Linked DNA regions of Homo sapiens. The protein of the gene in region 1 interacts with the protein of each later gene in a pairwise test. Each region holds a gene or a part of one and is shown on either strand. Other genes may lie near its edges. The genes, in order: DEGS1 and NAGPA.

What was found.
Region 2: the proteins of DEGS1 (region 1) and NAGPA interact in a two-hybrid assay, tested with the Homo sapiens proteins (one large-scale study listed by BioGRID and IntAct).

What each region holds. Positions count from the first base shown.
Region 1 is NC_000001.11:224,189,734-224,193,548, reverse strand, and holds the end of DEGS1 (sphingolipid delta(4)-desaturase DES1), read right to left. Parts: coding exon 3,230-3,815; intron 2,458-3,229; coding exon of another isoform or gene 2,416-2,457; exon of another isoform or gene 2,393-2,415; intron 1,218-2,392; coding exon 1,071-1,217; 3' UTR 108-1,070; downstream 1-107. UniProt on the Homo sapiens protein: Has sphingolipid-delta-4-desaturase activity. Converts D-erythro-sphinganine to D-erythro-sphingosine (E-sphing-4-enine). Catalyzes the equilibrium isomerization of retinols.
Region 2 is NC_000016.10:5,024,321-5,027,931, forward strand, and holds the end of NAGPA (N-acetylglucosamine-1-phosphodiester alpha-N-acetylglucosaminidase precursor), read right to left. Parts: intron 3,574-3,611; coding exon 3,526-3,573; intron 3,060-3,525; coding exon 2,958-3,059; intron 2,879-2,957; coding exon 2,815-2,878; intron 1,366-2,814; coding exon 1,158-1,365; 3' UTR 524-1,157; downstream 1-523. UniProt on the Homo sapiens protein: Catalyzes the second step in the formation of the mannose 6-phosphate targeting signal on lysosomal enzyme oligosaccharides by removing GlcNAc residues from GlcNAc-alpha-P-mannose moieties, which are formed in the first step.

The DNA.
Region 1 (3,815 bases):
CGATCTACCATCAGACCACAGCCAGTTCCCACTGCAGTGAAATAACATGAAAGTCTTTATCAGTTGAGCAGTTTCTAATGTGAGAGTCAACACACCTGAAAAATGAATTTGAATGGTGGAAATTCAGTAAGTACTTTATTTATGAGTAAGGCTGTACAGGATTCAGCAGTGTCTAATTCGGGTCCCATATAGAAGTTAAAATTTTTAAATGAGTAATTCAGCTTACAGGGAAATATATTTTCATCTCAATCTTTTATGCTATATCATACCTCAGGCTTTTTAAAAATTATTTTTGAGATGAAATTTTAAAGTTCCCCCGGTACCCAAGTTACCATATTATATAGTATAAAGATAGTGAAATACAAAAATGTAACAAATACTAATACACTGTGATTAATAGCTGTTTATTAGCTTTTTAATAAAGCAAAACTTTATAGTGAAATAAACTAGAAATAGCTTTTTATTTTTTATATATATTTATTTATTTTTGAGATGGGGTCTTGCTCTGTTGCCCAGGGTGGAGTGCAGTGGCACAATCTTGGGTCACTGCAGCCTCTGCCTCCGCCTCCTGGGTTCAAGCAATTCTCCCACCTCAGCCTCCCATGTAGCTGGGATTACAGGCATGTGCCGCCACGCCCGGCTAATTTTTGCATTTTTAGTAGAGATGGGGTTTCACCGTGTTGGCCAGGCTGGTCTCGAACTCCTGACCTCAGGTGATCCACCCACCTTGGCCTCCCAAAGTGCTGGGATTATAGGCATGAGCCACCGTGCCTGGCGAAATAGCTTTTTAGAAGCTTTTTAAATGATATGCTTATAAAATGACAGACATGAGTGAAACATCCTCAATGACGATAATACACAAGTCACAAGTTTCCTGTGAGTGAAACTGAGCAGTACAGAGTCAGGCTGACTGTTTAAAAGCCAGATTCACTTCTTGGTATCACCGAGCTCTTACTCTGAAATTGTGCCAGGGGAGCTTCTGAGCATCACTGGTCTCAAGTTTAATAATGCAAAAATTCCATTTTATCATCTAAAGTTTTGGAGAAGAATCCCTTTGGCACTAATGATATTTACTCCAGCACCATCTCTCCTTTTTGGTGCCTCTTCATTCTTGAGTAGGGACTTATTGTATCATCCATCACAAAATCATACAGTACTTTTATCCAGGAATTGTAGTGAGGGAGGTTGTCATAGTATTCAGCTGCTATTTTCCTCACCTAGAAGGGAAAAAATACAGCAAGATGAAAAATGAGTGTTACTAGGTTCTTTCAAAGATGACTGATGAATGGTTGACACAAACACTGAGAAGGGAAACCATGAGACCTGCCTCCCTCCTCTCTCTTAAAAAAAAAAAAAAGCAGCAGCAGCAGCAGCTGTGGGAATTCTAAACAAAAAGCAGTCTACATTTCAGCAGCAGTTGAATACACTCGACCCTCTAGGTCTCTCTCCCATCACATTCCAAGGGACTAAATATCTGGCTTATTTGTAAAATTAACAACAAATACATACAATTAGATTAACTTGATATTATTAAAGAATGTACTGCATGGATGACGCCATAGAATATAAAGGCAACATCTGATCCCTGCCATCCAGGAACTTACAAATACTAATAAATTGTGGCATGCTAATTAGATAGAAATTAAGCACTTGGCTGGGTGCGGTGGCTCATACCTGTAATCCCAGGACTTTGGGAAGCCGAGGCGGGTGGATCACCTGAGGTCAGGAGTTCGAGACCAGCCTAACCAATATGGTGAAACCCCATCTCTACTAAAAATACAAAAAAATTAGCCAGACATGGTGGCGTGCGCCTGTAGTCCCAGCAACTCAGGAGGCTGAGATAGGAGAATTGCTTGAACTCGGGAGGCGGAGGTTGCAGTGAGCCGAGATTGTGCCACTGCACTCCAGCCTGGGTGAGAGAGAGACTCCATCTCAAAAAAAAAAAAAAAAAAAAAAAAGCACTTATCAAATGTGCAATTCTGCCATCTCAAGTTAAAAATGTCTTTTCATCTCAAGTTAAAAAACTATCTGGATGGGCACAGTGGTTCGTATGTATAATCCCAGCATCATTCTGGAAGGCAAGAGAATCACTTGAGCCCAGGAATTTGAGACCAGCCTGGGCAACACAGGGAAACCCATCTCTCTCTTTTTTTTTTTTTGAGACGGAGTTTCGCTCTGTCACCCAGGCTGGAGTGCAGTGGCACAATCTCGGCTCACTGCAACCTCCACTGCCCGAGTTCAAACGATTCTCCCGCCTCAGCCTCCCGAGTAGCTGGGACTATAGGTACCCGCCACCATGCCCAGCTAAGTTTTTTGTATTTTTAGTAGAGACAGGCTTTCACTATGTTGGCCAGGCTGGTCTCGAACTCCTGACCTCAGATGATCCACTCACCTAGGCCTCCCAAAGTGCTGGGATTACAGGTGTGAGCCACTGCACCCATCCAGGAAACTCCAGCTCTATAAAAATGTTAAAAATGTTAAAAATTTTAACAAACCATTTGGAGGATTAAAAGAAATTATTTAAAAAATCAGCCTGTCATAGCATGTGGCTGTAGTCCTAGCTACTTGGGAGGCTGAGGCAGGAGGATCACTTGAATCCAGGAGTTTGAGACCAGCCTGAGCAACACAGCAAGACCCTGCCTCTACAAAAAATAAAAAATTAGCCAGGCATGGTGGCACGTGCCTATAATCCTGCCTACTCAGGAGGCTGAGGTGGGAGGATCGCTTGACCCAGGAGTTGAGGCTGCAGTGAGCTATCGTACCACTGCACTCTAGACTAGGTGACAGGGCAAGACCCTGTCTCTAAAAAAACATAAAGTTAAAAAATAAAATTAAAAATAAATCCTAAGTGTAACCACTAAGCTTAAGGACCCAAGAGTGAACCCTTTGTAAAAGTAGGCTGGAAGATGCAGTATTTATATTCTTGCTCTTTTTGTTTTTTTTTTTTTTAATGAACTGCTTGGACTGACAAAATACTAGCCTGGCCAACATGGCAAAACCCCATCTCTACTAAAAATACAAAAATTAGCTGGGCGTGGTAGCATGCGCCTGTAATCCCAACTACTTGGGAGACTGAGGCATGAGAATCGTTTGAACCCGGGAGGTGGAGGTTACAGTGAGCCGAGATCGTGCCACTGCCCGCCAGCCTGGGCGACTGAGTGAGACACCGTCTCAAAAAACAAACAAATGAAAAAACAAAATTAGAATATGTATCAAATCCTTTACTTACCAGTGGAAGACTTTTTCCAGGAATGTTGGGGAAATCATGATGTTCATTATGATAACCCACATTGAAGGTAAGTAAATTCAGAGGCCCATAATATGAGTAAGTTTCATGACCCTTTAAGAACATGTAATGCTCAGCTATAAAATGTCCAGAAATTGGGTGCAAACCCAGGCCAAGTAAAGATGCTGCCAACATGTAGACTAAGGATTTAATTCCCAAAAAGTAATAAATTAAAATGTCAAAAGTGACCTGTGCCACGGTATTGATAACTTCCAGATACGTAATTGGTTTGGGGTTGATGAACAGAGGTCGAAAGGCATAAAAGAGAGGCTGAAGAATAACCCATATAAACTTTCTGAAAGCGGTACAGAAGAACCAGCCCTCAAAATCGGTAGGAATATCTACATCGACGCCATCAGCTCCAAGGTACCGATGATGATCCATGTGATACCTCTTAAAGGAAATTGAATATGGAATCCCAATAGGAAGATTAGCAAACATTCCAAACCAGCGATTCCACATTGCTTTGCAGTTGCCAAAGGCAGCATTGTGGGCAATCTCATGAATAGCCAGAGTCATTGAGTGGTTA
Region 2 (3,611 bases), on another chromosome or scaffold:
TGTAATCTCAGCACTTTGGGAGGCCATGGCAGGAGGTTGACTTGAGGCCAGGAGCTTGAGACCAGCCTGGGCAACTCAGTGACACCCCTTCTCTGCAAAAAAAATTTTAAAAATTAGCTGGGCATGGTGGCATGTGCCTATAGTCCCAGCTACTTGAGAGACTGAGGTGGGAGAATCACTTGAGCCCAGGAGGTCAAAATTGCAGTGAGCCGAGATCGTGCCATTGCACTCCAGCCAGGGCAACAGAGCGAGACCCTGTTTCTAAGAAAGACAAGAAGTGTGGTCTGGGGACCTGAAGCATCAGCATCGTCAGAGAGCTTGTTGGAAACGCAGAATTGCTGGCCTCACCCCAGGCCCAAATCTGCATTTTAACAAGATCTCCTCGTGACCTGTGGCATATTAAAGTTTGATAAGCACTGGATTAAACAAGCAGGGAACAGGACTTGGCTCCAGGATGCCGTTGTGACTTCTGTTTCAGGATAAGCCACACCTGCTAAGCCCTAGCAGTGACCTAAGTCCATGATTCAGAATCCACACACCACCTGGTGGCTCCTTTTATTATATCAATTTATTCAAGTGATTAAAAAACTTCTTGGCAGCAGGATGACAAAACAGGTCTGTAAACATGATCTCATCCCCCCATCCCTTCTTCCAAGGAGCTTCCTATGACAGGAAATCGAATTCTAGTTGGCAAATCCAGTGATGAGGTCTGTAGAAAAGGGGTCCCGTGTCACAGCCAGGAAGGCAGACTCGTCCCTTTAACCCACTCCAGCCAGGGGTGCTGGCCAGGATGTGCTGTTCTGTCATGACGTGGTCACTGAGTCTGGTTCGTTGGCAGCCCCTTCCCCAGGAGGAGGGAGACTCTTTGGCAGTGCGGCAGCCCTCCCGGGGGCACGGGCTTCTCGGCAGCAGACACAGGCAGGCCAGAAGCAGGCAGCTGAGCCTCTCCAGCGAGCATGGTATTGCTAGGGTTGCAGGTGCCCTGGCAGGTGGCCAGGTGAGGGGCTGAGGCACAAGTGCTATCAGGAACTTGGCTGCCCCACAGGGGCTGAGGACACCCAGATGGTCCACGCCAGTGGCCTTGAAATTTCCCCTGCAGAAGCCAGACCGTGGGGAAACAAGCTTTCGCGACGTGCCACCCCGGGCAGCTTGAGGCTTCAGTCCTTGAAGGGGTTGTGGGCGCCCCCTGGCTGCTCCTTCTCTGCGGCCAGAGGCTCCCCGTTCATCTCCTGCAGCGGGTGGTATGCATAGTCCCCATGCAGGCGCCGGTTCCTCTCTGCTCTGGACAGGAGCAAGGACAGGTTTGCTGCAGTGCTGATCAGCAGGAGGAAGGCCAGCGCCAGGGTGAGGGCTAGCCAGGCGGTCCTGCAGACAGGAGAGAAGCCCCAAGTGGGGGACTGCTGGGTGGGCTCAGGGCTTGGGTAGCACTGGAGGGGCTTCCCTCTACCCGGCATAGATAGCACTAAATCAGGTGCCTCCAGGGACCACACAGGGAATGTTATGAGCAAAATGGACTAGGTGGGGATGGGGCAACATTTAAGACATGTGCAGGGAACAGCAGAGGCAGTCATGACGTACAATGCAGGTCCGTGCTGCCCCATCTCCTGATTTTTTTTTTTTTTTTTTGAGACAGAGTCTCGCCCTGTCATCCAGGCTGGAGTGCAGTGGCATGATCTCAGCTCACTGCAATCTCCGCCTCCTGGCTTCAAACGATTCCCCTGCCTTGGACTCCCGAGTAGCTGGGACTACAGGCTCGAATCACCACGCCTGGCTAATTTTCGTATTTTCAGTAGAGACCAGGTTTCACCATGTTGGCCAGGCTGGTCTTGAACTCCTGACCTCAAGTGATCCACCTGCCTCGGCCTCCCAAAGTGCTAGGATTACAGGCGTGAGCCACCACGCCTGGCCTGATATTTTAAGAGAAGCCATTAAAAAGGTTTTTAAGGCTGGGCGTGGTGCTCATGCCTGCAATCCCAGCACTTTGTGAGGCTTAGGCGGGCGTATCACTTGAGGTCAGGAGTTCAAGACCAGCCTGGCCAACATGGCGAAATCCTGTCTCTACTAAAAATATGAAAATTAGCCGGGCACCTGTAATCCCAGCTACTCAGGAGACTGAGGCAGGAGAATTGCCTGAACCCAGGAGGCGGAGGTTGTGGTGAGCTGAGATCGCACCACTGCACTCCAGCCTAGGCAACAGAGTGAGACCCCGTCTCAAAAAAAAAAGTTTAAAAAAATGTGAATGTTACTGATTTTTAGATGCTGCTGATATATTTTAACTTTTTAAAAATTATGTAAGCCAAATAAAACACAGCTGGATGCTGGGCATGGGGGCTGGGAGGCCAAGGTGGGAGGATCACTTGAGCCCAGGACTGTGCACCTCGTCTGTGCAAAATAGTGAGATCCTATCTCTAAAAAACAGTAAGAAATAAAATTAGCCGGGCATGGGGGCACGTGCCTGTCGTCCTAGCTACTTGGGAGGCTGAGGCGGGAGGATCGCAGTGAGCTGACTGTACTACAGCACTTCTGCCTGGGTGACAGAATGAGGAAACCTCCTGCCCCCACCCTGGGATCTCATCTAGCCCAGTTTGCATTCTGAGCTCCAGTGGGGGATGCTGACAACAGAGGCTGGGCACTCGAAGGCCCTGGGCTCTGCTCCAGGGTCCCCAAAGCAGACAGTGGGGAGAGCTGGTCCCGCTTCCTCTAAGGCAGGGAGCTGGCAGGGGACAAGGGCAGAGATGGACCTCACAGGGGAAGGGTGCGGGAGAGAAGGGGGATTCCTCCCGCCCTGGCCCCAGCTCCCACAGAAGCACCTACCTGGTGAAAAAGGAGAGTTCTCCCGCCCTCAGGGTGGCTTCAGGTGGCTGGAGACACTGCTTTACTGTAACATACCAGAGACAGGCTGAAGGGGCCGGAGCAGGAGCGTCTGCCCATACCCCTCCCCTTGGAGGGATAGGTACCTCTGGAGACGCTGCAGTTGCCAGTCTTGGGGTCACAGGGACAATGGTGCTCACACTTACAAGGCCTCTGGCAGCCCGGCCCATGCCAGCCAAGGGGACACTCTATGGAAAGGAGATGGGAGGAGGGAGGAGGGAGGAGAAAGGTTGGGGCCTCCAGTGTCAGAGCCTTTCTCGACAGGACAGGATACCTGCCCCTGCCCATGTGTACAGAGCCGGGCTAAAGGTGAAGCACCCCCTGCCCTCCCTGGACTAGCCCCTGAACGTGACCTTATTTGGAAGCAGAATCTCTACAGAGGCACTGCAGTTAGGATCTCAAGATAAGACCGTGCTGGATTTGAGGTGGGCCCTGGAGCCAGAGCCCGGGGACCCTTGTTTTAGCCGAGCCCTTTGTGGAACGGGCCGCAGCAGCCACAGGGGAGTCACACAGTGATGTGCAGGTGAGGCCGGGGCAGAAGACAAGAGGCAAGCATTTCCCAGACCAGAAGGTGGAGACAGAAGCAGCAGAGGAGCAGTGGGGGCTGCCGGGGGCCACCGTCTCCCCATCCGCTAGTGGCGTGGCAGCTCCTACCTTCACTGCAGTTGGACCCGGTCCATCCGGCATCACAGCGGCAGCCGGCTGCCGAGACAAGACCGGGGAGGCCAGGTGAGGGCCTA